Linked DNA regions of Homo sapiens: regions 1 and 3 are each linked to region 2. The links come from fine-mapping of genetic effects on gene expression. A gene starts in region 2. Each other region holds a variant in brackets. All regions are shown on one strand. Distances are from middle to middle.

Region 1 (10,825 bases), 21 kb after region 2:
TACCATCTCACACCAGTTAGAATGGCAATCATTAAAAAGTCAGGAAACAACAGGTGCTGGAGAGGATGTGGAGAAATAGGAACACTTTTACACTGTTGGTAGGACTGTAAACTAGTTCAACCATTGTGGAAGTCAGTGTGGTGATTCCTCAGGGATCTAGAACTAGAAATACCATTTGACCCAGCTATCCCATTACTGGGTATATACCCAAAGGAGTATAAATCATGCTGCTATAAAGACACATGCACACGTATGTTTATTGTGGCATTATTCACAATAGCAAAGACTTGGAACCAACCCAAATGTCCAACAATGATAGACTGGATTAAGAAATTGTGGCACATATACACCATGGAATACTATGCAGCCATAAAAAATGATGAGTTCATGTCCTTTGTAGGGACATGGATGAAATTGGAAATCATCATTCTCAGTAAACTATCTCAAGAACAAAAAACCAAACACCTCATATTCTCACTCATAGGTGGGAATTGAACAATGAGAACACATGGACACAGGAAGGGGAACATCACACTCTGGGGACTGTTGTGGGGTGGGGGGAGTGGGGAGGGATGGCATTCGGAGATATACCTAATGCTAGATGACGAGTTAGTGGGTGCAGCGCACCAGCAAGGCACATGTATACATATGTAACAAACCTGCATGTTGTGCACATGTACCCTAAAACAAAGTATAATAATAATAATTTTAAAAAAAAGCGGTTTGAAATAGTGTATCCCACACTCATGTTTTAGTTGAACAGTTAAAATGCTTGTGTTGGTTTTACTTTTTTAAGACATTAAAATGGTTCCCATATTTTAATTTTTTTTTTTTTTTTTTTTTTTGAGACAGAGTCTCACTCTGTTATCCAGGCTGGAGTACAGTGGTACAATCTTGGCTCACTGCAACCTCCACCTCTCGGGCTCAAGCGATCTTCCCACCTAAGCCTCCTGAGTACCTGGGACCACAGGCACACGCCACCACACTCCACTAATTTTTCCTATTTTTGGTGGAGATGAGGTTTTGCCATGTTGCCCAAGCTGGTCTCAAACTCCTGAGCTCAAGTGATCCACATGCTTCAGCCTCCCAAAGTGCTAGGATTACAGGCATAAGCCACCATGCCCAGCCAATGATGCATTTTTGAATGTGCACTTTTGTCTATTGCTAATGACCCTGAGTCCTAACTCTCTCCTCTGTCCTAAATGCTTCCTCATCTACTCTGGTCTGGGCCTTCTCAGGGTTGCCCCCTGAGCCATTCTGTTTGCACAGCCTGCCATTTCACTTTCTGATGCCCCCCATTTCCTCCTTCCAGTCTCTTCAACTTCAGCTTCTTTAAAAGAGCACAATCTGATGCTGGTCTGTCCTACACCATGTGCGTGTTCTTCAAAATACTTTTGACAAGAGGATTCAGCAAGGCAACATAAGAGAGTGGCTTATTCATCTTTGCATCCTTTGACCTTAGCATGGTTTGTACATTCATTTACTTATTCATTCATTCAACAATTTTTTTTTGAGTTCTATAATGTGCCGGATGCTGAGAATACAACAACTAACAAGATGTTTTCACTGTCCTGTTGAGTAGGGAATAGGCAAGTAAACAGGAATGACCAAGGGAGTATTAAAACTACATTGAACTGGCCGGGCATGGTGGGTCATGCCTGTAATCCCAACACTTTGGGAGTCCAAGGTAGGTGGATCGCTTGAGCTCAGGAGTTCAAGACCAGCCTGGCCAACATGGTGAAACCCATCTCTATGAAAAATACAAAAATTAGCCAGATGTGGTGGTGGGCGCCTGTAGTCCCAGCTACTCAGTAGGCTGAGGCAGGAGAATCACTTGAACCCAGGAGGCGGAGGCTGCAGTGAGCTGAGATCTTGCCACTGCACTCCAGTCTGAGCAACAAAGTGAGACTCTGTCTCAAAAACAAACAAAAAAACCAAAACAAATAAGCAAAAACTACATTGAACTTATTAATGATAAATATAGGGTACTATGGAACATATAAGAGTGACTATCATAGTCAAGCACTAAATAAATGTTATTTGAACAGTGAATGAATGAGTGATTGAATGAGTGAATAAATTAAAAAATGGTTGAACATGATTAGTTATGAAAGCACAGAACCCTCGAGGTGAGTTGCCACCACCAGATGAAAAGATTCTCCTCCAACTTCACTATTTTGAAAGGCGGGCTCATCTGCACCTGTATCATGGAAAATACAACTTTTATTTCTCTTTCTCTCCTCTTCCCACCTCTGTGCTCCAGATAAATAATGGAGGTTATAAATGAAACGTGACTGCCAGCAATAGCACCACTAGCATGCCCCATCTACTTTTCTCAAAATCCTTTCACAAAACAACACTGATATGAGGCAAAATTGCACCCTTCTGCAACTCTTTTCAGGATTTTCATTACTGATTAAATAAAATATGTGCTCACCTTCAAGGCAGCTGACTGTACAGCCAAAGTGAGTTGCTTAACTTTGTTTATGATTTTGCATAAAGTATCAAATCATGGCTGTGATCATTGCAAAGCAGGAATTGTTTTTCCAGCTGACCCTCGCCCCTAGTTTCAACAAATCTCTTCGATCCCTTTCAGTTGGTTTCCATGCCAGCTATTTGCTGGTCTGCATTGCTGAGTCTATGCACAGCAGGGTTTATCAGAGGGCCATCTGCTCTTCTTGATAACTCCAGTACAGCAAACATCTGCTGTAGAACTGGAAAGAGCTAGTTCAAGCCAGTTTTTCTTAATTGCACTGTTTTTTTTTGGCAGACAATTACCTTCTCCTTAATTTCCCCCTACAAAATCAAAACCTGTGGAAATCTTGCCTTTTAAAAACGCCTCCTTTTTATATTCTAAAATATTTAGCATAAATTATAAATAGTAATCAACATTTAGTATGCATTTTAAAAAATTGCATTATTTCCAGAAATTAAGAACATTTTCCTGCATTGCCAAAATTAACCTGATTCCTTAGTCAAATTTGCCCAGTTGTTCCCAAAAGACCTCTTATAGCCAGTTTGTCTCAACCAGGACCATGCATTGCATTGGTTTGTCATATAAAGATGAGCAACTCCAACACAATGACCTGTGGAAAAGACCAGGCCAGCCAGCCTGTAGAATATAGGATTCACCTGATTGTGGTGTTTACCTTGTTCCTATATCCCTTGATTTCACTGAACTGGAAGTGAAATCTAAAGGCTTGATTAGATTCCCCCAGGCACTTCTGGCTGGTGTACATCATTGGTAATGTAGCGTTTCCCATTCTGTATCACAACAGGAAACTCATGTTATCTGATTTTTCCCCTTGGAATCAGAAATCTTGACATATGTTTTAAAACTAATTTATTTTGTAGAAAAAGTAATACCAAACCATATTAACAAATGTAGACACTAAAGAAGGGCATCAGAGAAAAGGAAGTCTTCCTCCTACACCACACTTTCTATCACCAGTCTTTCTCCCCTAGGAGGGAGATATTCCTTCCTGAAATATTCTATGTACACACAATGGGAGCATACTTTCATTTAACAATATATGGAGGAGATCCTTCCATCTTAGCACATATTGATATAATGTACTCTTTGTAATGATGCCATGCTTTAACATCCTGTAGATGTTCCATAATTCATTTACTAATATGTCATTGATGGATATTTAGGTGGTTTCCAGACATACATATTTGCATATATATGAACATAATTGCAGATTATATTCCTAGAAGTAAAATTGCTCATCCAAGGGCATGTGAATTCTAAATTTTGTAAATATGGACCAATTACTTTCCAAATAGTTTGTACCAGATTATGCTTCTACAAAAAGCATATGTATGAGAAAGTCTTTTCCCCTGCACCCTCATTGACATATTATCCACTTATTGATCCTAGTTGATGATAGGTGAAAAAAGGTATCTCGTCACTTTGCTGTGCATTTACCTAATTTTGAATGTGTTTATCTTTTTCTATATTTAATGGATTAAGGTAATTATTTCCTAATTTATAGATTAAGGAAACTATCCCTTAGCTTATCAAATGTATGCAAATATGTGTGGCAGGATATTAGTACTCAGATTGTGTTATTCTGTTCCCCCCACCCTTTTTTCCCAGCACTGGAAAGATATAAGGCAAATATTTCCCCACCTCTAATAAGGATGCCATTGAGAAAAGAGGACTTCACTTTCCTATTGCTTTTGGAGTGATGTCCTATTATAATAACATATGAAGAAAAGAAAGTTTTTCTGAAAACCTTACATAGTTGTGGGGATTGAGGGAGGTGGGGAGGAGGCAGTACAAAGTGCACGTGGGGGCGCACAGGAGCTGACCATCAATCCCCAGAAGTTGCCCAACAAGGGAGAGGACCTGCTTCTTGGGAAGGAAAGAGTCAAGTGGGGCTGGCAGGTACCATGTTACGGGATAACATATGAATGCTCAGAAACTGTCCGAGCTCTGTGTCAGTGCCTGTAGATCCAACGACCTGGCCCTCACATCATCTCCACGAGGTGCACTGTGCTTCCTGGGGCACCTGATCCACAACCTCATATCCTACACCTGAAACAGTGACCATCAACATGGCTGATGGTGTTGATGCTAGTGCTGACCCCAAGGCTTTGCTTGGTCCCAGCTGGGTACACTGTCCTCTCATAATACCTGTAAGCCCAAGAAAATGGAGTGGAGTGGGGTTCTGAATGCCAATCACATAGGCGAGCCCCCCTCACAACATCTGTTTGGGTTCGGGGAGGTTTGAACAAAAGCAGCTCAAGACCCCTTTACTGGAAGAGTGGTTTCTGACCTCTGTTACACAGTTTTCCTATTTGCCTTTGCCTTTGTTTAGAGTATTTTTGTGTGAGTGTTCATACATTTAAAGTTTTTATATGGTAAAATTTATCTTTTTTTCTTTCTTAATTTTTATTTTTATTTTATTTTATTTTATTATTTTTTTTTGAGACAAGGTCTTGCTCTGTCACCCGGGCTGGAGTGCAGTGGTGTGATCACAGCTCACTGCAGCTTCGACCTCCCGGGCTCAAGCTTCAGCCTCTTGACTAGCTGAGACTATAGGCATGCACCACCATGCCCAGCTAATTTTTGTATTTTTTTGTAGAGACAGAGTTTTGCCATGTTACCCAGGCTGGTCTCAAACTCCTATACAGTTTAGCACACCTAAACTGTACAGTAACTAGATAAAAGCCTTTGTTTGTGCTGGTGCAGACCCAAGGAAGGGATTCGGTGTGGAGACATCTCTCCCTCCTAATGTACCTTCTTCACTCTTGCTATTCTCATGATGTCCTGCACTGCCCTCTCCACAAAATCTATGAAGCAAGCAGGAGATATTGTGTAAACGGTCCTCCCCTGGAATGTGGTGTTCAGGACTACATACTAAAAATAAGCAGAGGCTTTGGTACCAGAGTGTTCCCAGAAGACAGTCACCATGAGGATGAGGGGATTGGAAACCAAGTCAACATAATTATATTATACTATATAATGTGCAATGAATGCCTGTTATACGACATGCACTGTTTCTAAGAAACTTATCTCATTTAATCCTCATAGCACCCTAATAAGGATGGTTCTATTTTACCCTCATTTTACAGATGAGGAAATTAAGGCATAAAGCTTAAGTAACTGTACAGTGTCACACAGGTAGATTTGACAAAGCACATCTTAGCCTATGCCTTTTAGTTGAAGGAAATGAGGACAAGTAAGTATAGGAAAGCCATACAGCTATCTTTAAATTTCAAAGAGTTATATGGAAGAAATTATAAATTTGCACTTTAGGTGCTCCAAGTCTGCAGGTGAGGGTCATTAATAAATAGATTTCTAGTTAATACATGGAATAACTTTCCAGAGAATGAAGTGTTTCTTAAAAAGGAGTAAGTGATCTCGAGAGGTAGTGAGTTACTATTTAAGGGATTCAAACAGGGACTGGATGGTCCTGATGAAGATGCTGGCGAGGATATTCAGGTATTTAATTGGTGGTTTGGATTAGTCACCCTTAAGGACCCCAAAGGCCTTGAGATAATAGTAAATGATTCACTTTCTAATTTCCAGCAGGGTGGGGTTGTGTATTATGGGTAAAGTGGCTATATCAAATAAATTCCAGGTTGTCAACATTACAGAAACAGTCATGGCAGGTTTGAAGAGTTAATTCATAATAAGGAAAGTTGATAAAAAATACTTTGAATCCAGCGACAGAAAAATTTGGATAGATTTTTGACAAAAAGCAGCAGCTGTGTGCATGACAGATGCCGTGTAGTGCAGTAGCTAAGGGCATGGATTCTAGAGCCAGCCCCATGGGTTCAAATCCAAATTTACTAATTTCACATTTACTAGTTGTGTGACCTCAGGCAAGTTACCTAGCCTCCTTAAACTTCAGTTTCCTTACCTGTAAACTACTGTGTTAAACACTATCTAATTTTGAATCCCTGTTGGGGGGTATATGTAGATGAGATCATCTTTAGAACAAAGACTGCGACATAGTGAGTAATAAATATTTGCTAGTATTATTCCAAAGAATGTTCATGACATTTTCGACATTCAAACACTATAAAAGGTAAATCATTTTTATTGCCACAAATTGATAAATTGTTGTGA[A/C]AAAAAGAGAAACTGGCACACATGAAATAACACAAACATAAGAAGATATAAGACCAAAATAGATTTGAATTATGTCTCCCAGGCTGGATTGCAGTGGGGCGATCTCAGCTCACTGCAACCTCTGCCTCCCAGGTTCAAGCAATTCTCATGCCTCAGCCTCCAAGTAGCTGGGATTACAGGCATGCACCACCATGCCTGGATAATTTTTGTATTTTATTTAGTAGAGATGGGGTTTTGCCATGTTGGCCAGGCTGGCCTTGAACTCTTGACCCAAGTGATCTGCCCGCCCTGGCCTCCCAAAGTGCTGGGATTATAGGTGTCAGCCTGTGCCCCTGGCCTAAACTCTGACTTTTGAAAAGGTTTTCTAAAACTTTATTTTTAAACAATCAACAATAAGTATTTCACTGTGCACCTATTAGTATGTCTAACACAATGCTAAGTAAGGGGAATTATGAGAAGATTATAAGCTTATCACGTGATCTTGTCTTTAAATAGTTTATAACCTAGCTACCTATGATTATGAAGACACATTTTAAAAATTCTAGGACCTAATATCTTTTTTTTTTTTTTTTGAGATGGAGTCTCACTCTGTCACCCAGGCTGAAGTGCAATGGCCTGATCTCGGCTCACTGCAAGCTCCGCCTCCTGGGTTCAAGCGATTCTCCTGCCTCAGCCTCCCGAGTAGCTGGGATTACAGGCACCCGCCATCATGCCCGGCTAATTTTTGTATTTTGGTAGAGACAGGGTTTCACCATGTTGGTCAGGCTGGTCTTGAACTGCTGACCTCAGGTGATCCGCCCGCCTCGGCCTCCCAAAGTGCTGGGATTGCAGGTGTGAGTCACTTCGCCTGGCCAGACCTAATATCTTTAAGTAAAAATCATCTTTGAAAGTAATCACTTTGGATAGTTAAACATTTATTTCAATAATGCTACCATTGCTCAAAACATTCTTTACATCTTTTCTTTGGGATTGCCTTTGGAGTCATTGTATAAATCATTAAAAAAAGCAGACTCATTGCTTTAGTTTAGTGTTGCTCTATCATCCTCAAGTATCTAGCTTAGTCACTTGAATTATTCACTAGCTTTGGGTCTCAGTGACTTCTGATTATTTTAAAGTGTCAAATTCACCCTCAAAGACAAGTTTGGCTATTCTTCATGATCTTCAAAGGAATGCACCACAGCATGATTGGACAGTAAGTTCTTGGAGAACAAGGTGCCTCTCTCGCTTCTCTTTGCATCTCTGGTAGAGTCTGTTGCAGTGCTTAACCACAGCAGGAGCTCAATATGCACACACTTGTGGGCTGGAAGGGAAGGGGCTGCAGCACCTCAGCTGCTCAGCAGCTGGAGATAGCAGGGCATGGTGAGGATGAAGGTGAGGAACGGTTCCAGGTCAGGCTTGAGGGCAACTTTTTCCTGTTCGATTATTTCAGGGTTTTCTTTCACTACTCCTTAGAAGTCTGGCTTTGACAGCGAAGGACAGAAAGGTCTGCCTGAAGCTGGCAGCAGATTCTCCCAATACTCCCTTCGAGCCCTGTGTTTCAATATATACATAATTAATTAATTAAAAGTCTTACCTATAAGTCCAATATGTCATATATGTATATATGTATGTATATGTATATAACCACACACACACACACACACACACACACACACACACACACAGTCAAAACTTGGTGGATAATCAGGCTAAAGCAGAACTTTTGTTTTAACATACAGACGGAAAACTGTGTCCATATCCATTAATGCCAGGGGCCTTTCTTACATTTCAATAACAATCATTAGGTTTCATACCACCTTTCAGAAAAAGACAACGTATTTCAATTTCATATACTTTTTATTTTGAGACAGGGTCTTGCTCTGTTGCCCAGGCTGGAGTGCAGTGGCACAATCTTGGCTCACTGCAGCCTAGACCTCCTGGATTCAAGCAATCCTCCTGCCTCAGCCCCCCAGGTAGCTGGGACTACTGGCGTGCACCACCACACCAGGCTAATTTTTGTATTTTTAGTAGAGACAGGGTCTCCCCATGTTGCCCAGGCTAGTCTCAAACTCCTGAGCTCCAGTGATCCGTCTGCCTTGGCCTCCCAAAGTACTGGGATTACAGGTGTAAGCCACCATGCCCAGCCTTACATTTCACATACTTTTATGAATTATATTTATTCTGAAATTTCTAACAGAGTCCTTCTAACTCTATCAATATTTTAATGTAATGAGAAGAATACGAGAACAGTTTTTAATGTAATGAGTCAAAGTATAATTCTCCAAAAAGTAACTAAGAAAATAATACAAATTACTTTACCAATATTTGTTTCTTGTTGTTAGACAAAGGAAGAAGAGTACAAAGGTCCCTGGTCGTAGCCCTTTCTGATGAATATATTTTTATTGTTTTTTCCACTTTACTTACAAAACAATGAATAAATCAATATTTTTGGATGATGAGATGTCAGAAATCTAGTGTTTATTGTGTAATCATAAATTTCTGTGAATATCAGTAGGTTTGGGAGTCAGGGTAAAAAGGGTGTCTTCTTGCTTTGGTCTACAGAATAATGTTTTAATTCTAATAGCTAATGAATTTTAAGGATTCCTAGCAGATGATAATTAAATAAACTACTCACTTATTTAAACTATTTTAATCATCACCAAAGTATGTTTTCCTCACCTTTTAATTATATTTATATTTAATACTTTTTAAAAAGTATGACACATATACAAAACATCTTCTCTGGTAAATATCCATATCTCCTAGAAGAAAGCTTTGGCTAAGTGATTCTTGCCTACTTTTACAACCTAAGTAAATTTGCATTAGGCAAATTTTTCCAGTTCAAAAATGAAGACTTTCAAATCCCACTGAAATGAATAAATAAGCACAAAATGGGTGAAGTACATGAGAGTACTGAACAGAGAGAAGACAGCAGAGATTGTGACTAGTTCTAGAAGATGGAAGGGGGATGGAATTATATCAACAGATATACATACATATGTATATATATATATATATATATATATATACACACACACACACACATACATACACAAAAGATTATCTATATGGAAAGATAGAGAGAGACAGAGTATGAGTGTGTGTGTGTGAAATACAATGATCCATAACAGAACAGTAATTTTCTTGAGGCCCCAAGAAAAATGCCTTCAATAATAAAGTGACTTACTGTAACAAACAATATAATTTAGAAATTATAAGACCTCAGGGAAAGTGAAGCCCTGTTATTTTTCTTTCAACAATGGAAAAGGAAGTTAATCAGAAATCCCTAGAAAACCAAAGGCTATACAAAGAAAGTCAGACCAAGTATGAAGCAAATTGAAATATGGCATGGATTTGGACAATATATCCACGGGAATGCAAGAGAAGAAAATTCATTTGACCTTGATGCTTGGAACATTCTCCAACAAGTAGCTCAAGTTTTGTAAATAGGATTATTTCTCTTTATCCATGGTCCCATGCATACTACTTTGTTCTGCAGTGAACGTTTTTCTAAATGCAACAATTTTCTATTATTCCTGCAACAGAGTATTAGATTGGAAGTTTGACTGGAAACACCAAGGCATGATGGATTTTAGGTATCAAGGGGAGTTGCAAGACAGACACTGCACAGAAGTTAAAAGGAGGTGGCCACGAACCAGCCAGATGACTCATTTGACTGTCCCCTGGAAAATCTGGACCACAAGAGAACAATGGGCCAGCTACTTTGCTTGTGGGCAAAAGGGGTGCTGTTAAATTGGGGTCAGACCACACTCTCATGGCTTGTCTGCAGAAAGGGTGAAAGCTGTTTTGAGCCTAATGAGAGTGAGAGAGCCAGCCTGAACTATCTAAAATCTGGCCCAAGAGAATTACCGGGGAGGACAACAGGACCCCCAAATCAGAGTATATCTGGAGTGACCTGGTTGAAAAAGCCACTGTCTGAGGCAGAAGTCACAGTCAGAAAAATGCCTGTGGCATGAGAAGTACAGACAAAAGTTTCCAGTGGGAGCCTCTGAAGACCCATGAGCGTGCTCACAAAGATCTGCCAGGGTCAGAGGATGCCGGCTTCCTATCAGGGTGCCAGGCAAGCAACAACAGTCTTACTCCTTTATCCATCCTCTTTCTTCTTACTTTGAATCTGAGGAGGCCAGAAACCATGGTAGCAAGATGGGAAGGGAAGTTTGGGAGCATAACAGAGAAAGAGAAGCAGCGCGCTGGCCTCTCCTGGTTTCCTGTCTGTGGAAGGCTGTTGCTGGACAAAGGGAG
Region 2 (10,825 bases):
GGTCCTTGGGTGGAGTTCCAGAGGTTTCATGAAAAAAACCCTGGAAATGTGTGCAAATTGTTATGTATAAATACATTTTACAGTGCAGAAGGTCTATAAAATTTTATCAGATTTTTCCACAGGGCAGTGATCCCAAACAGTTGAAGACAACTCCTCACTCTTGATTATTCATCATGCTTCTAAAACTGCAGTGATTCTCTAAGTATGATCCATCTTAGAGTCACCTGGGGGCAATTATCAGAAAGGCAGATTCCTCAAACTCTTCCAGACCCCGATAACCTGAATTCATTGCTGAATTAAAGCTGCTTCCACTGGGTGCAAGAACCATAACTTTGGGCATAAACTTTAGCAAGAGAATGAGGCTGGTAATTTGAGTATCCTTTCACCTACTTTTTCCTGACCACAAGGTTCCTACTCTAACCCATAATACAATAGGGCTAGTCCCTTTTACTCAATGACGTCGCTTATACTAATTGATTACCTTCATTTTATGGCCTTAACTCCTCATTATATTACTTATTTTAAAATCATAGAAGCTAAATGTACATTGATACATGATTATATATGTACATGGCATAGTTGGAGATTAGCCTTATAGATTTAGCTTGAGAAATGCAAGTTTTTAAAATTCCACAGCAAACTCTAAAAGGTCAAATAAAATTCTGAAGTATTTCTTCAGTTGGGTAAGTTTGCAGCAAAACCATTTGGGGGCAAAATATGACCTGAACCAACATGAAGGTATTGATAAACATGTTTCAATTAGTAAGGGTAGTCATGTATTTTGATGCAAAAATGTATTAATGTGTTTCAATGGGAGCTGCTTCAGGGCCCATTGGGAGTGTTACATAATATGCTACATTTGTACTGTATTAACTTTCTAACATCCCCAGATTCCTGGATTCCAAGATATGTTTGACCCCAAAATGTGGTTTGGACAGGGGATTGTGGGCCTGTAGCATAACCACTCCTTTCTTTTTGCCCAGAACATGAAAAAGTCAGGCCCAGGCATGAGATATATAAAAATGTTGCAGGTGAAGTCCAGCTTGCAGGAAGACTCTTCAGGGGTTTCCATCAATTCTAGCTACCACTCAGTCTAAATTACAAAAGCGCTGCAGATACACAAAATCATTTGCATAAAATAGCTCAAGCGATCCTCCTGCCTCAGCCTCCCAAGTAGCTGGGACTACAGGAGTGCACCACCATGTCCAGCTAATTTTTAAAAAACTTCTGAGAGACTAGGTCTCCCTATGTGCCCAGGCTGGTCTTGAACTCCTGGGCTCAAGTGGTCTTCCCACCTCAGCCTCCTGAGTTGCTGGGATTACAGGCATGAGCCTCCACACCCGGCTCCTTTATGAGAACTTACAATAGAGCTCTGCACCAACCTGCTTCTGGGTGCTCCACAGCAGCTTCAGGAGTCCAGGGTCCTGCCTTTACGTAGCCCCTCTTCTCCAGTGCAAAGACAAACCCTCCATCTCCAATCACAATCTCTCCAGCATTTAAACGTTCTAGGATGCCCTAAAATTACAGATGAGGGAGGAAAAGGAGTTACTTGAGTGTTTAAGATAATTTTCTATTTTTATTACTTTTGCTAACATATTCTTGGAGATGTGTGGTTATTTTAGAATTTTCAGAGAAAAATGTATATTTTATATATACATTTATGGCTATCTATAAGACAAACAACCAGAATGCTCATAAAATAAACATTTGTGTATTCCTTTGTATGTGCTGTGGGTGGGGGGGTCTTTCTTAACACGTTAAAGAGTATTTGAAGAACACCGTGGGAGGTGTGTTTGAAGAACTGTCTGCTGAGGGATTAAATGAAAAGATTTTGTTGTAAAGCCTCAAATCTGCACTTAAGCACAGATTCTTAAAATGGTAAATACTAGTCTTCTTACTCTATCAACAAACTAAAGAGAGGGTTAAAAAATTGTTAAAGAAGTTGAAATGGCATAGAATGCTATTTTTTTTTTTTTTTCTTAGAGACAGCATCTCACTATGTGCCCAGAGGAACTTGAACTCCTGGGCTCAGAAGATCCTCCAGTCTCACCCTCCCCAGCAGCCAAAACTACAGGCTCGTGCCACAGTGCCCAGCAATGCTATTAAGCCATTTTATTTTAAGACTGAAAAGGTGGCCAAATCACTCAAAGACTTCTATCTTTGGTGTTAAAATTCAGTTTCCACAACAGTAGCTATGCTATACAGTCCAGGTTATGAGTGTGCACATGCTGTACTCTATGATGAGAACAAGGAAGAGACAACTAAAGTATTTGTTGAATGATTTTTCAGCCCAATCTCCATACTTATTCCATTTACAATACTGTGCAGTAATCACCCTGGTGTTGTTCTATGGATAACTTTGGAATTAAGTATTTTGAAAGGGTTTTGTGAATTACAAAGTAATTCTCTAGTTTAATAGATTTTTTGTAATTTCAAAGAATCATAGACTTTAAAAATAAATAGTACTCAATTCAATTGAGATCTCTCTCTCATTTCACAAATGAGAAATTAAGACCCAGAGTCCCTGAGTAATTTATACATGGTTTTCCAGATGGGGAGCATAGGGCTTCCTGACTCTTTTATGCTTAAATAACATCTATATTTGATTTCAAATGGGATTGGGGGTGGTGGGACAGCCCTGAAAAAAACTGTATAGTGTAAAGGAATAACTTGGGACGTATTTACCCAGTGTGTTCCACTTACTACCAATAACAGTGGATAAAACAAAAGCTGACATAATAACAAGATTCCAGAAATCTGTGAGAGGCAGTCACAGGATTTTGCATCCCAATTCCTTGCCACCTTCTTAGAACCTCCCTCATTTTCATTCTCTTCCCCTCCACTGCCCCTTCCCATGCCATTTGGACAGCTGGTGCTCAGAGAGAGGAAACAATTGACATTTCACCAGACAGAAGCAAAGTGGTAGGATTATGCTGTGTGTTCCCTAATATACCTTTCAGATCAAAACATTTTCAAGCCATAGTGTTGAAGCCTTGTTATCTTATGGGAGCCCATAAGATAACAAAGCACAACAAAAATATAAATGGCTCACACGTCATTTTGAAATCCAAATATTTGTCATGATTGCAATGTATCTAAATGTCACATCTGAAAACTGCAACTTTGATTATGACCTAATTAACAACAACAATAATATATATATGTATACATATATATAAATATATATATATATATACTACTGCCAGCACAGTTACATAAAAAACATAACAAGGGTCACTTAAATGAGATATGACTTGCTACTAACTTTTATTTGGATAAAATAATTCATGACATTTGGGCAGTTAGCAGCTCCCATTGAACGTGTGTGTTTTCAAATTTTAGTACCACAGCATTTTAATGTGCAGCATAGCTAAGGATCTGATGCTGGGTGGCAGGGTGGGTAGTGGCGATTCAATTACTATGTGGCTCATGCACTTGTTGAGTGGTTACCTCTGGAAATATGATCTCTTACATTCTATTGCATTTTAAAATTATCTAGACTTCAGGATTTTCTGTTCCCAAGCTAAACAGACTTTTTAAAAGGTGGAATGTGCTATGAAAAAAATATACCATTTTGTGAAAAAGTATTACAAAACAGTATATGTAATATCAGCCCATTTTTGTCTAAGAAGTGCATATTTGCCTCAACAACAAACTAGCAGAATATACACCAGAATTTAACAGGCACTGTTCTTTGTGCTTTCCCTCATTGTTTATAATGAACATGTGCAAACTTTGTAACATTTATTTTAATTTTAAACTCAAATGTGTAGACATGTTATTGTCCATATATTGTTTTAACACTGACATATGCACGGAAACAAGTTACTAGGAAACTGTTTTTTCCATCTTACATTCATCTGTTGCTTAGATAATTCTACAAAGATAATTCTTTAAAATGTTAGATTTTCTGAGTTTGAGTTTGGGGAATAAGTTAGACTTACGTGGCTATGAGAATGGGGACAAACAAAAAATATCTATATCTATAGGAATCATCCTTCCCAGTCTCTGTGGACTATTCATTTAGTACATTTAGGGACTGGCGAAATTCTCACCCTCCTTTGACTGGTGATAGTCCATAGTCCTTTGCCATCTCAACACCCACTCATGCCATCAACATGCATCCACGATGCTGCATTTAGAATCTGTAACCGAATTGACCTTCTTCCTTGTGTAGAGGTCTTTTTGATTTGGGAGGCCATCCCTTTAGAAACTGGGCACACCTCAGCTGGTTCTCCAGCAGGGCAGGCACTGGGATGAGAGCTGGACCTTTCTCACTGTCCTTACAGCCCAGAGGATACAGTTGGCCTGGCCCCATCTGCCTCCCTACCATTTTCCGGGGGCCTCTGTCGTGCCAGGCCTGGGACTGGGCATTTGACCAAAAGGTCAAGTTTATTCTCTCCTCCCTCCATCCTTCTCTCTCTCTTCCCACCTGTCCAGTCTCATTCCACGGCAGTCAGTCCATCTATCCATCCGTTCCCCAAATTAGAGGAAGGCCTACCGTCTGGACTGAAAATACCCCTCCCAACAAGCCACTGGGATAGCCAAGAGATGGACTTGTTCATCTGGAGCTGGAATTGGGTTTTACAATTTCATCAACAGCCCTTCCTCAGTATCTTACAGCCACTCTGCCCATTTTTTCTTAAACCATGTTTTCGAGGCTGACATTTCGGATGACATTTTTCTGTCATCACGGACATCAAATTGCCTGTGAAAATCTGCAATCACCCAACCAGCGCCTGGGCCTTGGGTGCAGCGAGAACCCGGCGGGGAGGCGGCCCCGACACCCGCGGTGCAGATCCAGGCGGGAAATGTCGGAGCCAGCGCCGTGCACTCCTCCCTGTTCTGGGCGCGCCGGGTGCAGAGGGCGCTCGCGGCGGCCTCGGACACAGATGCGGAGGGGCTCCGTGGGGACGGGATATCGCGCCTGCGGGGCTAGGAGCAGTATCTCTAGGGAGTTTTCTGGTCTTGGGGTGCCAGATTCAGAAGATATTGGAAGGCTCGGAGTTCTGGGGACACCCAGCCGTCAGGGAGGGCTCAGAGGGTGCCTTTGGGTCTGAGAGGCAAGGATCACATAGATCTGGGGCGCACTCTGGTCCAAGCTGGGCTGGGGCTGGAGGGGACAGAGGCGCTCTGGGGGCGCGCTCTGAACGTGGGGCAGGAGTGGGGAGGCTCAGAGGCGCCTTGGGGTCCTGCTGGAGAAGTTCTGGAAGCACATTCTGGTCTGAGGCTGAGGGAGGGGAGGGAGTAGGAGGATGATGGGTACCAGGCAGGGTCCGAGGGCCCCTCTGCGCTCCCAGAGGCTGGGATACAGAGCAGGTGGGAGGGGAAGGAGAGCGCCCTCGGGTCCCCTGGAGACTCACCTTCTTGGCCTTTTTGCCCCCAACGGGTGGCATCTTCGTGGTGTCCAGACAGGTGGTCGACACGGATGCGGACCGACTAGGCGAGCCTTCCCGCTGCGCAGCCCCGAGCTGCTCCGAGTCCGCAGCCTGCCTCTTTATACCCGCAGTTGGGCGTGGGGAGGGCCTCCCAGCCACCGCGCGGGCCAACACGGACCTTGGGCGGGAACACGCCCACCAGCCCTTCATCAGGCCCGCCTCCTGTTGGGAACCTGGCCTGCCAAGGAGGTAATCCAGATTGTTCACCCAAATGGGTGGAACCACCGAAAAGTAAGATAAGAAAAAGCGAGGTTGCCACTCGCTCAGATTTCAAACCTGCCTAGCGTCCCTTTTGCCTCTTGCACTTTTGCCCCGACCCTGACCGTCCTCTCGCTCACCTGGGATCATGCACCATGGCCCACTTAGGCTGCCAGAGAGGCCTCTGAGAAGTCCATTCGATGCTCAGATATTTGTCAAAGGCCAAGGCGTCAAGATTATGGAATCAGGGGATGAAGTCCTGGAAGATCTTCAGCCTGGAGTGTGATCTCCTGTGTGATATACATCCAGTATAACGGGACACAAATGCGGCTTTAGTAGAGGAGTCCAATACTAACCCTGAATTGGCGGGTATGTTCAAAATGACCTTCTACCCCTATACCCAAACATGCCTTGCAGTTTCTAATAACACAGTAGTTTCTAATAAGAATATGTTTGTAATATTTAACAAGGACAGACTTTTAACATTTATAAATGGAAGCAGAAATGTACTTTGAAGACTTCAAAATTCAGCATGAAAACGATATAAAAACATAGACATTAGAAGAACTGGAGGGAATAGAGATGTTAACAGTAGTTACCTATTGATGGCGGAATTAAGGCTTGTTTTATTTTATTCTTCATGTTTCACTGTATTTTCCAAAATATTTTTATAATGAGAATACATTGATTTTAAAATAATAAAAACATTACTTTAAAAAATGTACAGCATGGCCTGCACGGTGGCTCATGCCAGTAATCCTAGCACTTTGGGAGGGTGAGGCGGGTGGATCACCTGAAGTCAGGAGTTCGAGACCAGCCTGGCCAACATGGTGAAACCCCCGTCTCTGCTAAAAATACAAAAATTAGCCGGGCATGGTGGCAGGCGCCTGTAATCCCAGCTACTCGGGAGGCTGAGGCAGGAGAATCGCTTGAACCCTGGGGGCAGAGGTTGCAGTGAGCCGAGATTGTGCCATTGCACTCCAGCCTGGGCAAAAAGAGTGAAACTCTGTCTCAAAAGAAAAAAAAATGTACAGCATGACAGTAAATAGCCTACAGAACAATGAAATATCTGAAACACAGTTCAGAAAATTTTACCCAAATAAAAGCATGTAAAAAAATTCTGTATGTGGACAAACAACCTCCATTTCAACACATGCAGAGAAGAAAGTTACTGCAACACCTGATGAATTAATACAAATTTAACGGCTAAAGTGACATGTGTTTGAAATACAACTGAGAAAGTAAAAATGTCCTTTTGCTTCTAAGTATGTCAAGTTTAAAATGGAAAAAGAAATGAAAAGGTGAAAGGATATACTGTTATTCAAGTGATCTATTATTTCATTGGCTCCTCCACCCCCAACTGTGATCTGGGGTCAGCAAGAATGAGGCATGAGGTAAAGTCATTCTTCACAGTACCTAGATTAAAAAAAAAAAACACCTTGAAGGCATTGGAGTATCCGAATAGGTAACAGTTTAGTTAGTTAATGCGTTAACTAGTTAAGGTATTCACCTGGTGAGCACTGGTGAGATGAACAGGTCTAGAGTGAGCCCCGCGGTGGCTGCAGGGAGCAGCCGCAGTCGTGGGTATCTGGCACTAGGAGGCGGTATAAGCACTCTAACACTCAATAAAGGCTGAAAGCCGACGTTCCCAATTTCAGTTTCCTCAAAATGTGGCAAAACTTGGGAGAAATTTTAAACTAGTAGCATTAAATTTAGAAGTGAATTATGAATTTTTAATAGGTAATATAGACACATGGCAAAAATTTTACTTTTTTAATCTTTATTTCTCCAAGAACAAACATGGCAAAAAAAATTTAGAAGCCTTTCCCCAGCTGCTGTTGCAGATCAAGTCCCCTCCCTGGAGGTAACCACTATTGCCTGTTAACCGTTCTTCCAGAGGAATTTTATGCATACCTAAGTGTATAGATGTATATAAAAGGATTTGTACTCGAACGTAGGGAATTTTCGTTTTTTAAAAAAATTATCGACTCCCAGCTTTTCCAGAATGATTTATAGGTGCTGTCAAAATATTTTTGTTTTTTCTGGGCCTCTCAATTTGTTGTCCTAACTATCCCATGCCCCCACCCCCAATTAGGTCCATTTAAAAAATTATTCACTTATTTCCATAATAGATGATAATATCCACCATGTATGTAAAAGGCACTAAGCCTTTTACTTACACAACATTATTTACCCCACACAACTCTGTGAGGTGGGTGTCCCCTCTTTGTTCTCAAGAACCACGAAGTTAGGGAGTTAGATGGATCATCAGCATGCTCCCTGAAGTTTCTTTGCCCCATTCCCAGAGAACTAAGTCTGCTTGGATACCACTTAGGAAGTGAGGTTTTTTGCTTGTTTGTTTGTTTTTTTGAGATAGAGTCTCACTCTGTCGCCCAGGCTGGAGTGCAGTGGTGCAATCTCAGCTCACTGCAACCTCTGCCTTCTGGGTTCAAGTGATTCTCCTGCCTCAGCATCCCGAGTAGCTGGGATTACAGGCTGGCGCCACCACACCCGGCTAACTTGTATTTTTTGGTAGAGACGGGGTTTCACCATGTTGGAGAGGCTGGTCTTGAACTCCTGACCCCAGGTGATCCATCCGCCTCGGCCTTCCAAAGTGCTGGGATTACAGGCGTGAGCCACTGCACCTGGCAGGAAGTGAGTTCTGCAATAAACTGTCCTTGGGAGGCTGCCTATGTTCTCTGATCTCTACTGGAGTCAACCAGATGAGGGAGGTCATAAGACTGAAGTCCATGGCTGTGTACAAAGATGTTGGGGGTTAAAAATAAATCCCAAAGAAGAAGAGGAGACTTAGAGCTGGCGATCCACCCCCTTCATTTTACAACCTCAAAAGATACTCGGTTATTGTTCTGTCTCTGACCAGTGCTTTGTTCTATTTGAAATCCTATTTATTCACTCAATAAACATTTAGGTACCATTAATACAATGTTTTAAACCCTATGCTTGGTGCTGGAAGTAAAGGATATCATCTCCTTTTTTTTTTTTTTCAAGGAAGAGATAGAAACCATCTCATATAAGTGCTAAAATGTTCCTTTTACCAATATGTAGATGGAAAAATGTCAGGACTTTTCATTTCCCACTCAACTGGGATCTCTTTTAAAATGAAACTGACTTTTCACAGGCCTTTTTAGACTAAATATGTTTCATTTAGCCTTAAACCATTGAAGATACTTTAACACTGTGTTTAATGATGTTTTATATTTTAGTATGATGTTTAATGATGTTTTAACACTGTGTTTAATGGTGGTTTTACATGTTAACACTGTACAGAACAGTGTTTGCAAACTGCTGATGTGGAAATGGAGCCAGCTTCTGCGTTTCCTTTGGCAAGGCCAGTGTTTTTAAAAAATTGAATGTGAATTCCTTTATGTGGCGCTTCCACCCTTCCCATTTGCTGGTCTGTACCACACCCAGCTGCCCTGCACTCTTCTGGTTCACATATTTACCTTACCTTAAAGGCATTTGGGCTTTCAACTTCTGCTATAAATAGAAGGTATATTTGGGGTTACGGAATACATGTTCCCCCAAGTAGCCCCCAAACCGAAGATTTCATTTGCCTTACATTTTCCTACTGCCACTAACCCCCGTTATTTTTTCTTGCCAGGATGACGATACTAAAAGGTTGATGAGGTGGATTTTCCTTCTAAAACTCTCTTCTGCAGGTGCACAGGTTTTCCTCAGTTTACCTGTCCTGTCCAGCACCCTGTCTATTGCAGTGGCCACATACATGCATTTGTCCCAACACGTTCATGCATAGCCAACCACTGCACAATTACTCCTCTTTAAAGGGTCTTGGTTTCTTCATATGGAAAATTAGAAGTTGAAGCTGGGTGACTTTTCAGATTTGTCTTTGCATTTGGTTTGGCATAAACTTAGAGCACAAAACAGCCTCTTCCCAGGGTGCTTTCATTGCCTTTCCCTTGCCATCAGCGAGCCCTTCCTGAGCCCGGCTCTGACCGTGCCTGTGGCTCCTGCTGGTGCCTCCAACTGCTGCCCATGCTTGAGTTTTTGCCTTTAATTTCCTAGTTCTTAGAGAAACAGCTGAGCTTTTTGTTTTTGCTTGTTATCTCAGAGCTTCCTTCCACCACAGGTGAAAATGCTTCCCTCAGGGCTTGCAGATTAGCCAGCATATCCAGCGTCTCCAGCATCTCCTGGCTTTCCACAGAGGAGTCCTCCAGCTGATATTCTTGTTCATTCTGGACACCTCCAGTTTCCCAGAACTATCCTCTCAGCATGGTAATTGCATCCTGAGTTCCCTTTCTAGCTCTGAAATTTCCTCTCTTCTGCTTTTCCTCAAATGCTTTCTAACAGGATGATTAGCCTGTCACATGCCCTTTTGTGGCTTTTTTTTTTAAGCAGATAACTGTAACTTTATGAGCACTTCCTATGTGGAGTTAGCTGTGCTAAGTGCTTTGTAAGCATTAGTAATCCTTACAATAGCCCTGTGAGGTAGGGATTTGACCAGCCCGATTTTACTGATGACAGTGCTGAGGCCCATGGAGGCCAGATGAGAACTTTCCCAAGATCATGTCAATAGTAAGCACAGAGCTGAGAGAGGACGTCAGCTGGGCCGAATGAAGCCAGAGATCACACTCTTTAGAGTTACTCTATGCTTTCTTTTCAGTAGATTGTTTTTCTCAAAAGCTCCCCAAACTTTTTATAACCTCATCTGACTCATGGACATTCCCACTCACCTGGCCCGACCCAGAGGTCCCTTCTCCTGGTCAGAAGTTCCAATTCATTGGACATACAGTTAGTGACAGACAGAAAATAGTCTGTCCTGACCAGGCTACCCCACCAAATACCCCATGACTTCTGCACTGTGTGTAACCCTTGGGTTGCCTAGTCATTCTGAAATGTTGTTGTTTTTGATAGGCATTGGAAAACAGAAGCACTAAGTTCTGGGAATAGCCATTCAAATCTTAATTTCTATCATCTTTGTGAGCTGCTAATAGATGTCTTAGTTCATCTTTCTCTGTCTTAATAGGAAACGGTTGGAGTGGATGCTATAGGTCCCCTTTTTCCCAGGGGTCTGGTACATGATGTTTAAGTGGTCCATCAGCTCCAGTATGTAGCTCCTGATCTGGGTAGTCATACCCCAGGGACAGCCCTGCGACTTGGTCTCAACCCTGCAGAAGAAAGAAATACACAGCAGCCTGGCGGGTGTGTGG
Region 3 (10,825 bases), 80 kb before region 2:
AGGCATGAGCCACCAAGCCAGGCCAACTAAAGAGTTTTAAATACAAACTTGGCCCCTTGGTGTCCTGGGATTGAAATACAAGCATTAGTTTTGAAAATAAATTCTAAATGGAAATGGCTTGGAATTGTGGAACTAGAGTGAGTGGGTATGGGGAGAGGGAAACACAGTTTGTGTTTCCAACCCCTGTAGTACTAATATTCCTGCATCTAGATGGTAGGTTTGAAAGGAGCAATGATGGCATGGTCATTGTAACGATAAGAAAAAGAATGTGAATTACAGCAATTCTGTCACTCAGCACGACCACTTGGATATTTTATTCGAGAGTAAAATTAAGTACAGTGAAACAGAGGTGCAATATTTTTGTTTGGTAATTTTACAACATTTTCTAAAGTCTAAACATCTTTTTGTGGATGGAATTCAGCCATGGGTCAGGCCTAGTTTTGTAAGGGCTGGGTCTCATGAAGTGTTTGGGGACAAATACCAGAACACATAACTTTAGAGAGGCTGGAACTCCTGCACAGAAAGCTAACTAGTTTTAGTTGATAAATAGACTATCCTGGTTAACATAAATAATATCTTTATATTAGCTGGAATTCTTCTTATTTAATTGCAATGAAATGCTAACATCATTATTCATTACTATAAACAACCAATATGTAGGTATAATTTTCACCTTAACAATTAATGCGATTACAGTAAATAGTATTAATGCTTTATAATTTCGTGTATGTGTGTAATTTTTTTTTTAATTGTATTGCATTTGTTTTTTTGTTGTTTTTTTTTTTTGAGACGGAGTCTCACTCTGTTGTCCAGGCTAGAGTGCAGTGGTGCGATCTTGGCTCACCACAACCTCCGCCTCCTGGATTCAAGCGATTATCCTGCCTCAGGCTCCCGCCTCAGCCTCCTGAGTAGCTGGGACTACAGGCATGTGCCACCATGCCCGGCTAACTTTTGTAGTTTTAGTAGAGATGGGATTTCACTGTGTTGGCCAGGCTGGTCTCAAACTCCTGACCTTTTCATCCCAAAGTGCTAGGATTACAGGTGTGAGCCATCGTGTGTCGCCTGGTTTTTTTTTTTTTTTTTAATTTTTGGTAGAGATGAGGTCTTGCTATGTTATCCAGGCTGGTCTCAAACTCCTGACCTCAAGCAATCCTCCCTCCTTGGCCTCTCAAAGTGGGATTATAGGCATAAACCACCACTGCTGGCCTCCTGGCATGTTTTATACATATGAAATTTTATATATATATGAAGTTCAATAAAATAAAATTTCAGGCCTGGAGGCTGAAGCAGGGAGATCTCTTGAGCATAGGAGTTCAAGGTTGCAGTGAACTATGATCTCACAATTGCATTCCAGCCTGGGTAACAGAGCAAGACCCTGTTTCTAAAAAATATTTTTAAAGTAAAAAAGAAATTAAATTTTACTGTATTTTTCTGGTTATTATTAATTTGATTTCATGATTGTTACTGAAAGTAATTTTGTCGTATGAAAAAAGTAGGGATTTAAAAATGATTAATTCTAGGTATCAGATAAACTAGATGTGCCATTGATCATGCCCTGAAGGATTAGCAATACTTCCCTATTGTCATTAACATTCACCCAACTGGCACTTTTTAGACTTTAGATTTTGCAAAATTTGGTCAGATTGAGGAGGAAGGAAGAGAATATTAGATATTTCTACTATCTTACTTCTCCTAGAAAACAAACTAGAGGCCAGGCGCGGTGGCTTACACCTGTAATCCCAGCACTTTGGGAGGCCGAGGCAGGCAGATCACGAGGTCAGGAGTTCGAGACCAGCCTGGCCAATATGGTGAAACCCCGTCTCTACTGAAAATACAAAAAGTAGCTGGGCATGGTGGTACATGCCTGTAATCCCAGCTACTCAGGAGGCTGAGGCAGGAGAATCGTTTGAACCAGGGAGTTGGAGGTTGCAGTGAGCCGAGATCGCGCCACGTCTCAAAAAACAGTAGAGCAAGAATGAAGAAACAGAATTGCTAAACATTAGTAATATGATAATAACAATAAAACCACCCACAATGATAATGTATTTAGAAAACACTTGCTAACTGGTCTAGCAGAAAATGAATTACAACAGTTTTGCAGAATTTATAGCCTCTTCCACCTAGAAATAAAGAACCATTTGTAACAGAATGGGGACCCTCCAGAGGGCTGGATCCATTAGGATGGAAGTAGGGCCCCTTGGCTGCTGTCTGTGTGCCAGCACAGGTGACCACAAACTCTGCTGACAGCAAGACAATAATTTTAGGAGGTAAGAATGTTTTCCTTCTGCTATTGCATCAACGATCCCTAAGGTTTGAGAAAAATGAAAAAGCACTTCAGTTCCTGTTTTACCCCCCTTAAATTGTGGACAGTAACTCTGGAGAACCTATCACTAGTTTGTCGAATATTTCTTCCAGTTTATACTCCTCCCCACCCTCACTGGGAAGTATAGTAGAGTGGAGAAAAGCCTGCAATTTGTGTGGATTCTAATTTTTATTTACTTGGGTAAATTATTTACCTTCCTAGTACTTCTGGGCCTTCATTTGAAAACTGAGGATAATAAAATTCCCTCCCTAGGACCATTTATTGAATACTTAGGACACCCAGAGCTGTTTGTGAGCATTTCATGTGTATTAACTTGTTGAATCCTCACAACAGATCCTATGAGATCAGAACTATTAGTAATCTCCCTTTACCGAGGAAACTGAAGTTAAGTAATTTGTCCAGGTTTGTCTTATTAACACTTCCTTAATCACTCTACTTATTCAAGTAGCCTTTGAAGCTTTGTCACAAAATCAATGTTTCACAAATTTCTATAAAATCATGACATTAGAGAAGCACCTAATCCAGCGGTCCCCAAACTTTTTGGCACCAGGGACTGGTTTCATGGAAGACAGTTTTTCCATGGACTGGGAGGGCAGTGGGCAGGGGTTGGTTTCAGGATGAAACTGTTCCACTTCAGATCATCAGGCATTAGATTCTCATAAGGAGTATGCAACCTAGATCCCTCACATGTGCAGTTCAAAGTAGGGTCTGTGCTCCTATGAGAATCTAATGCCGCTGCTGTTCTGATAGGAGGTGGAGCTAGGGTAGTAATGCTCACTAGCCTTCGGCTCACCTCCTGCTGTGCAGCCCGGTTCCTAACAGGCCATGGACCAGTACTGAGGGCTGGGGACCCCTGACCTAATCCAGTGATTCTCAAACCTAATGTACATGAGGATCACCTGCATGGCTTGTTAAAACTTAAGTTGTTGGTCCCCACCTTCAGAGTTTCTGATGCCCTAGGTCTGGTATGGGGCTCAATAATTGCATTACTAACACATTCCCAGGTGATGCTGATGCTGCTGGTCTACACTTTCTTTGAGAAAGCTACAGCTCTAAACTAACTTTGTCAACTGACCAGTCTGCTTGTTATGACACTTTGGTCGCGTCTGCTCTGAATGTTGTTGGCAAATGTGCAGAATGGCCTCAGGAGTGTGAGGCTGACTCATCAGGTTACTGTGACCTGTATTAGCTGCAGCTGGTGGCTGATTTCAAAATGGAGCAATTAAAGATTAAGACATCAAATCACAGGAAATTAAGATGAAGCACCACCAAGTATAAAACTCATAAAATTGCTAGCATTCCCCTGTTTTTGTCACACACGTGCATCCTGTTTTGCTCTGTTATTCTATCTGACATAAGACCACACCCTGAACAAACAAAAGACTGTCTCTGCCGTCAGAAACTGATCAGGCTCACAGGTGGGCAAGAAAATGGATATATATTCAATGAAATACGATTCTGGTGCTGATAATTTTATTTATTTATTTATTTATTTATTTTTTGAGACAGAGTCTCGCTCTGTCGCCCAGGCTGGAGTGCAGTGGCACGATATCGGCTCACTGCAAGCTCCGTCTCCCGGGTTCACGCCATTCTCCTGCCTCAGCCTCCCAAGTAGCTGGGACTACAGGCACCTGCCACCACGCCTGGCTAAGTTTTTTTGTTTTTTTTTTGTTTTTTGAGACGGAGTCTCGCTCTATCGCCCAGGCTGGAGTGCAGTGGCGCGATCTCGGCTCACTGCAAGCTCCGCCTCCCGGGTTCACGCTATTCTCCTGCCTCAGCCTCCGGAGTAACTGGGACTACAGGCGCCCGCCACCGTGCCCTGCTAATTTTTTGTATTTTTAGTAGAGACGGGGTTTCACGTATTAGCCAGGATGGTCTCGATCTCCTGACCTTGTGATCCGCCCGTCTCAGTCTCCCAAAGTGCTGGGATTACAGGCGTAAGCCACCGCACCCGGCCCGCCTGGCTAAGTTTTTGTATTTTCAGTAGAGACGGGGTTTCACTGTGTTAGCCAGGATGGTCTCGATCTCCTGACCTCGTGATCCACCTGCCTCAGCCTCCCAAAGTGCTGGGATTACAGGCATGAGCCACCGCGTCCGGCAGTGCTGATAATTTTAAAAATGACATTATAAAAAGACATATTACCCAAATTTTATAAATATCCATACTCTGTAACAGTGGCAGAGTATGAATCTGAATTTCTGTTGCCTCCAAAGAGTGGCTTCTTTATGCCAAAATAATTTCTCTGAGTGTTTTCTGAGTTAGAACTTCATGTAACTATTTCATATGGATTCATTATTGACTTACATGATATGGCTTCTTAGGATAAAAAACTGAAGCATATTTTAAGACAAATATATGAATTTGAAATATAGGCTAAGATGGAAACAAGATGAAATTTCATAATGCTAATTAATAATTCATTTAACTTCTTAGAAGTATATCTTCTGGGCCAGGCGTGGTGGTTCATGCCTGTAATCCCAGCACTTTGGGAGGCCAAGGCGGGAGGATCACCTGAGGTCGGGAGTTCGAGACCAGCCTGACCAACTTGGAGAAACCCCGTCTCTACCAAAAATGCAAAATTAGCCAGGCATGGTGGTGCATGCCTGTAATCCCAGCTACCCGGGAGGCAGAGGTTGCGGTGAGCTGATATTGCGCCATTGCACTCCAAGCTGGACAACAAGAGCGAAACTCCATGTCAAAAAAAAAAAAAAAGTAATGTATCTTTTGCATTTTTCTTTTTTTTTTTTTTTTTTTT[A/TA]GTTTTTTTGCAGATCACAGAACTTTACTAAGATGGAATCATGGCTGGGAGCAGTGGCTCACGCCTGTAATCCTAGCACTTTGGGAGGCCAAGCGGGCAGATCACCTGAGGTCAGGAGTTCAAGACCAGCCTGGCCAACCTGGTGAAACTCCCGTCTCTACTAAAAATACAAAAAAAAAAAAAAAATTTAGCCAAGCATGGTGGTGGGCACCTGTAGTCCCAGCTACTCAGGAGGCTGAGGCAGGAGAATTGCTTGAACCCAGGAGGTGGAGGTTGCAGTGAGCCGATATCACACTACTGCACTCCAGCCTGGGTGACACAGCTAGACTCTGTCTCAAAAAAAAAAAAAAAAAAAGATGGAATTACCGCTAATTACATAAAAGCTACTTGTCTAAATCAAAACCCATGAGTTTCACATAAATTCATAGTTATAAAACTAGAAACAAATGTCATATTCAGAACCGTAAGGAAATATCCTGACGACTAGGTGATGAAGGCTGGCGTGAATGAGTCTGCCCATTTATTTCGAGCTGTTATTATCACTTGTCTTATCTGCAGCTGGTGCCCATTTATTTCAAGCTGCTGTGGGCCATGCAGTAGTCGCTTGCATACAAGAAGTCTCATCACAGAGCTGTAGCTGCTCTCAGGCCTTTACTCTTTTCTCCACCTGCTGGCATTGCTCTCTCACTGTTAGGGGATTCACTCATTCCTCTCCCTTGTCCTCCTCCTTGGGATCTCTAGGCCCAGTCAGCATCTTTTACTCGTCCTCCACTCCCATGTCCGGCTAAAGTTCTCAATTCAACAGCATCAGTGGCACCTAATCTACTTCAGGATCAATAAGCTGCATTTCTTCTTATATACACTCATTTTAAAAATTTAACTTGATTAGCACCAAGTAAAATGTTGCAAGTAATTACTTCCCTAATGTTTTTTCTAGAATTAGAACAAGATGAGTTTCTATTTTTGTTTTTCTGGGTTTTTTTAAATGTGCTTTTTTTTCTTTTTTTCTTTTTTGAGACAGAGTCTCCCTCTGTTGCCCAGCCTGGAGTGCAGTGGTATGATCTCGGCCAGCTCACTGCAACCTCTGCCTCCTGGTTTCAAGCAATTCTCCTGCTTCAGCCTCCCAAGTAGCTGGGATTTACCATACTCAGCTAATTATTATTATTATTATTTTTTTTTTTTTTGAGAAGGAGCCATCACGCTCAGCCCCTAGATGAGTTTTTAAATTTTTATTTTACTTTTTTAAGAATTCCAAGGGGAGCCGGGCGTGGTGGCTTACGCCTGTAATCCCAGCACTTTGGGAGGCCGAGGCGGGCGGATCACGAGGTCAGGAGATCGAGACCATCCTGGCTAACACAGTGAAACCCCGTCTCTACTAAAAATACAAAAAAAAATTAGCTGGGTGTGGTGGCGGGCACCTGTAATCCCAGCTACTCAGGAGGCTGAGGCAGGAGAATGGTGTGAACCCGGGAGGCGGAGCTTGCAGTGAGCCGAGATTGGGCCACTGCACTCCAGCCTGGGTGACAGAGCGAGACTCCATCTGAAAAAAAAAAAAAAAAAAAAGAATTCCAAGGGGAATCAAGGCAGTTTTATAAAAAATTCATTCTACTAATCTCTGAGTAGTACTTTTCTGAATCTGTTCAGTCTACTATTTCAAATGACTGCAGTGATGCACATAATTTAGGATGGAATTGATTTAAATAAAATTCATCTAAAATTCACTAAATTTAGATTTAGATTACTACCCAGGAAGGTGAAATGTAATGTTTGCAGCTTCCTATCTCTTATTTGATTTAACTATAATATGGTTCTCAACTCATAAATGTTTCATTTTTGGAAGGCCTATACAATACATTTCAAGTGGTAATTAGTTTTGATAATTTCTCCAATTATTTTTGCTCTCTAATCAGGAAAATGAAGCATTTGAAACAAATAATTGTGAATTCATTGAGAGGTTTAATCACCTCTGAGTCAGTAGGCTTATCATGATTTTGTTTGGCATGCTTTACGATTACGTTAATATATCAACCAACACCTGAAAAACCATGCACATGTAAATGTTTAGTTTGATTATAGCAAAAAATGCTGAAATTTTTCTGAAGACACACAAAAATGTTGTCGTTCATACAACCTGGAGAACAAATCTTTTACCTCCACCCCCTGACTCCTTCGGCGCTGAGTACAGCACAGGAAGTTAGTAAGTCCTCATGTTTGCGATCATTCCTTTGCAGAAATTAACATAGGAGATGACAGATGTCTTGCTGCTGAAACTAATGCTGCTTAAAGAAAGAAAAAACTGCAATTTTAGCATTTTGGCTTGGTATGTGTACAAGATAATAAGCTGTGTGAGTTTAGAAGCTTGGAACCAATTCAACTAACAGATGCCAGTATGGCTCAACAGTAATGTCACATGCCGTCTCCACTGTGATCTGTATCTCTGTGCTGATCATCTTGTATTAAAAGGGCTATTTTTACTCTTGATATGCCTTACTAGAAGTACGCTACCTTTGGAAATTATTGTTTATCCTTAGAAGAAGGTATTGTGTGTGTGTGTGTGTGTGTGTGTGTGTTTCATTTAATACACAGCACTAGGATGCTCTAGGGTGAGGGGACATGCCTTCAGATTACACTGACAGAAAGACTGGAGAGCCCTGGTTCTTGGAATACTGAAGCTCATGCTGGGCTGTCCTGGACTATCTCAGACATTTAATTGCTACCCTATGATTGGACTTGAGAAATTTTTCAAGTTTCCTCAGCAAAACATTTATAAATCATCTCTCAGGGTGAGTTAATTTTGCAGAACTAACGCTACCTATGACAAGAGCTAACATTAAATGCTTAGTATGGGCCAAGAACAGCCGAGCACAGCAGCTAACACCTATAATCCCAGCACTTTGGGAGGCTGAGGTGGGAGGATTACTTGAGCCCAGAAATTTGAGACCAGCCCTGGCAACATATCGAGACCCTGTCTCTACAAGAACAACAAAAAAAAGCATGGTTTTTGTTTGTTTGTTTGTTTTGAGTTTCACTCTGTCACCCAGGCTGGAGTACAGTGGTATCATCATAGCACTGCAGCCTCGAATCTTGCAGGCTCTAAAGATCCCTGACATCAGCCTCCTGAGTAGCTGGGACTGCAGGCATGTACCACCATGCTGGGCCAATTTTTAAATTATTTTTTAAGAGACAGGGTCTTGCTGTGTTGCCTAGGCTGGTCATGGACTCCTGGCCTCAAGCCACATCTCTACAAAAAAATTTAAAAATTAGCTGGGCATGGTGGAGAAAGGATCACTTGAGCCCAAAAGTTTAAGGCTGCAATGAGCTGCGAGTGAGCCACTGCACTCGTAGGCTGCCCACTCCAGCCTGGGCAACGGAGTGAGACCCTGACTCTTAAAAAAAAAAAGTTCCTATTGCGTGTGGCTGTTGGGAAAACAAAATTAGTTAGCATATATGAGCTCTTTAAAACAGTGCCCAACACTTAGTAAGCACTCAATAAATGTTAGCTTTTAATACTGTGGGTATCTGTTGTAGTTTTGGGATCAAACTTCACATAACTGCGAATATTTTAAAATGTCAAAACTTTGGATCCTTTTTCTTGGTATTTCCTAGCTTAGGAGCCTTAAGAAATCAGAATTCTCATTTCAGTCTGTCTCCACTCCTGCCCAAGCAGGAACTCCCAACTTTAAGGTATTGCGTAGGCAGGGATTCAAACAGGTAAAGGCAAGAGTTTGAGCAAGAGAAGGAGGAGGAGGGACAATAAGCTCAGAAGAAGGGCTGAGTGGGCATACTCAAGATGGGCATATCAAGGAACTGGTTACATACCAATACGTATGAAGCTTGTTTCCTATACACAAAGTCCACACTGATAGCTTGGCCAGCTGGAGGTGTCACTCTGTCAGTGGGTCCCACCCATTCCTCTGCTACCACCTGTCTTACTCCTACCTCCTGTCCTTCAGATACTCTCCATTTCCCCTCAACACTGGCCATTGCCACCACCTTCATGTTACAATGTCAAGGGGTGTCCTGATGCCACTGCAGAAAGTACCTATCTCTGTTCAGCCTCAAGAGAGGAACTTCATAAATCCAAGACATTGCCAGAGCTAGGCTCATCCTCCTGAAAAGGGTGACTGAAATGAGATAATTTTTTTTTAATAAAATGGGGGCTGGGCACAGTGGCTCACACCTGTAATCCCAGCACTTTGGGAGGCTGAGGTGGGCGGATCACTTGAGGTCAAGAGTTCGAGACCAGCTTGGCCAACATGGTGAAACCTCGTCTCTACTAAAACTACAAAAATTAGCTGGGCGTGGTGGCAGGCACTTGTAATCCCAGCTACTCAGGAGGCTGAGGCAGGAGAATTGCTTCAACCCAGAGGTGGAGGTTGCAGTGAGCTGAGATCATGCCACTGCACTCCAGCCTAGGTGACAGAGCAAGATTCAGTCTAAAAAAAATAAAAATAAAAATACAGATGGGGTTTTGCTACATTGCCCCATGGTCTTGAACTCCTGGCCGAGTGATTCTGCTGCCTCAGCCTCCCAAAGTTTTGGGATTATTGACCTACACCACCACACCCAGCCAGATAATTTTTAAGTTGATTCATTTTATTAAAAGCCAATGTTTAATTTTTTATTTATTTTTTAAAGCCAGTATTTTAAAGCCCTCTATCAGACAAAAACTCTTGGCGTTTTCCTTTAAGATATACTCATGTTCAAATACATCATTATAGACTAAGACATAATTTAAATTATGACATGTCCCATAATTTCAAATATATATTCCTTAATTTAGAATATATACTTCTTTTTTTTTTTTTTTTTTTTTAGACGAAGTCACGCTCTGTTGCCCAGGCTGGAGAGCAGTGGCACTATCTCAGTTCACTGCAACCTCTGCCTCCTGGGTTCAAGCCATTCTTATGCCTCAGCCTCCTGAGTAGCTGGGATTATAGGCACACGCCACCACACCCAACTAATTTTTGTATTTTTATTTTATTTTTTTTATTTTTATTTTTTTTATTTATTTATTTATTTTTTTTTTTTTGAGACGGAGTCTCGCTCTGTTGCCCAGGCTGGAGTGCAGTGGCGGGATCTCGGCTCACTGCAAGCTCCGCCTCCCGGGTTCACGCCATTCTCCTGCCTCAGCCTCCCAAGTAGCTGGGACTACAGGCGCCCGCCACTACGCCCGGCTAATTTTTTGTATTTTTAGTAGAGACGGGGTTTCACCGTTTTAGCCGGGATGGTCTCGATCTCCTGACCTCATGATCCGCCCGCCTCGGCCTCCCAAAGTGCTGGGATTACAGGCGTGAGCCACCGCGCCCGGCCCAATTTTTGTATTTTTAGTAGAGACGAGGTTTTACCATGTTGGTCAGGCTGGTCTTGAACTCCTCAACTGAGATGATCCACCTGCCTTGGCCTCCCAAAGTGCTGGGATTACAGGCGTGAGCCAGCACACCCAGCATGGAATATATACTTCTTACACCTTTGAATTTTAGGAACAAAAGGTACTTTTGAGAGCATTCCATTTCATGTTAGCATTTTTTAGTTGAGGAAACTGAGAGGTGGTGAGGTAAAGACATTTGTCCTCGTTCACAGGGCTAATTAGTAGAGCTGAGACAAGAACAGAATTCTCAGTCAAGAGTTATTTTTATTACATCATAGAGGACCTGTCCTCCAAAGTAATTACTGTCATTTTGAAGGGTTCCAGAATGTGAGGATATGTGGAAGAGTAGCATCAACAGCTCATGCAGAATGGGAG

Direction of the effects. Positions count from the first base shown, and alleles are read on the strand shown. Sizes are in standard deviations (SD) of each study's normalised expression. Not every link is listed here.
In carriers of allele C in region 1, the expression in subcutaneous fat of the gene that starts at base 5,473 in region 2 tends to be higher than with A alone (moderate effect, 0.55 SD a copy in GTEx).

What was found. PIP is the estimated chance that this variant, and not a neighbour inherited with it, causes the effect.
Region 1: its variant is fine-mapped to the expression of BHMT in subcutaneous fat (GTEx, PIP 0.91).
Region 3: its variant is fine-mapped to the expression of BHMT in prefrontal cortex (CommonMind, PIP 0.91).

Annotation. Positions count from the first base shown.
Region 1 is chr5:79,085,781-79,096,605 of GRCh38, reverse strand. BHMT2 (betaine--homocysteine S-methyltransferase 2) reads right to left here. Exons shown (of 8, transcript NM_017614.5): 8 at 6,537-8,113. The coding sequence ends at 8,032. Among named protein-coding and RNA genes, the nearest start is that of BHMT, 21 kb to the left of the region's middle. The variant A/C (reference allele first, on the strand shown) is at 6,584.
Region 2 is chr5:79,106,457-79,117,281 of GRCh38, reverse strand. It overlaps BHMT (betaine--homocysteine S-methyltransferase), which reads right to left and starts at 5,473. Exons shown (of 8, transcript NM_001713.3): 1 at 5,364-5,473; 2 at 1,383-1,515. The coding sequence starts at 5,396. LOC124901012 (a long non-coding RNA gene) reads left to right here. Exons shown (of 2, transcript XR_007058837.1): 2 at 1,984-2,475. RefSeq lists an enhancer at 4,303-5,147.
Region 3 is chr5:79,186,581-79,197,405 of GRCh38, reverse strand. The region is part of intron 1 of LOC124901011 (a long non-coding RNA gene); the gene reads left to right. Among named protein-coding and RNA genes, the nearest start is that of JMY, 44 kb to the left of the region's middle. The variant A/TA (reference allele first, on the strand shown) is at 5,080.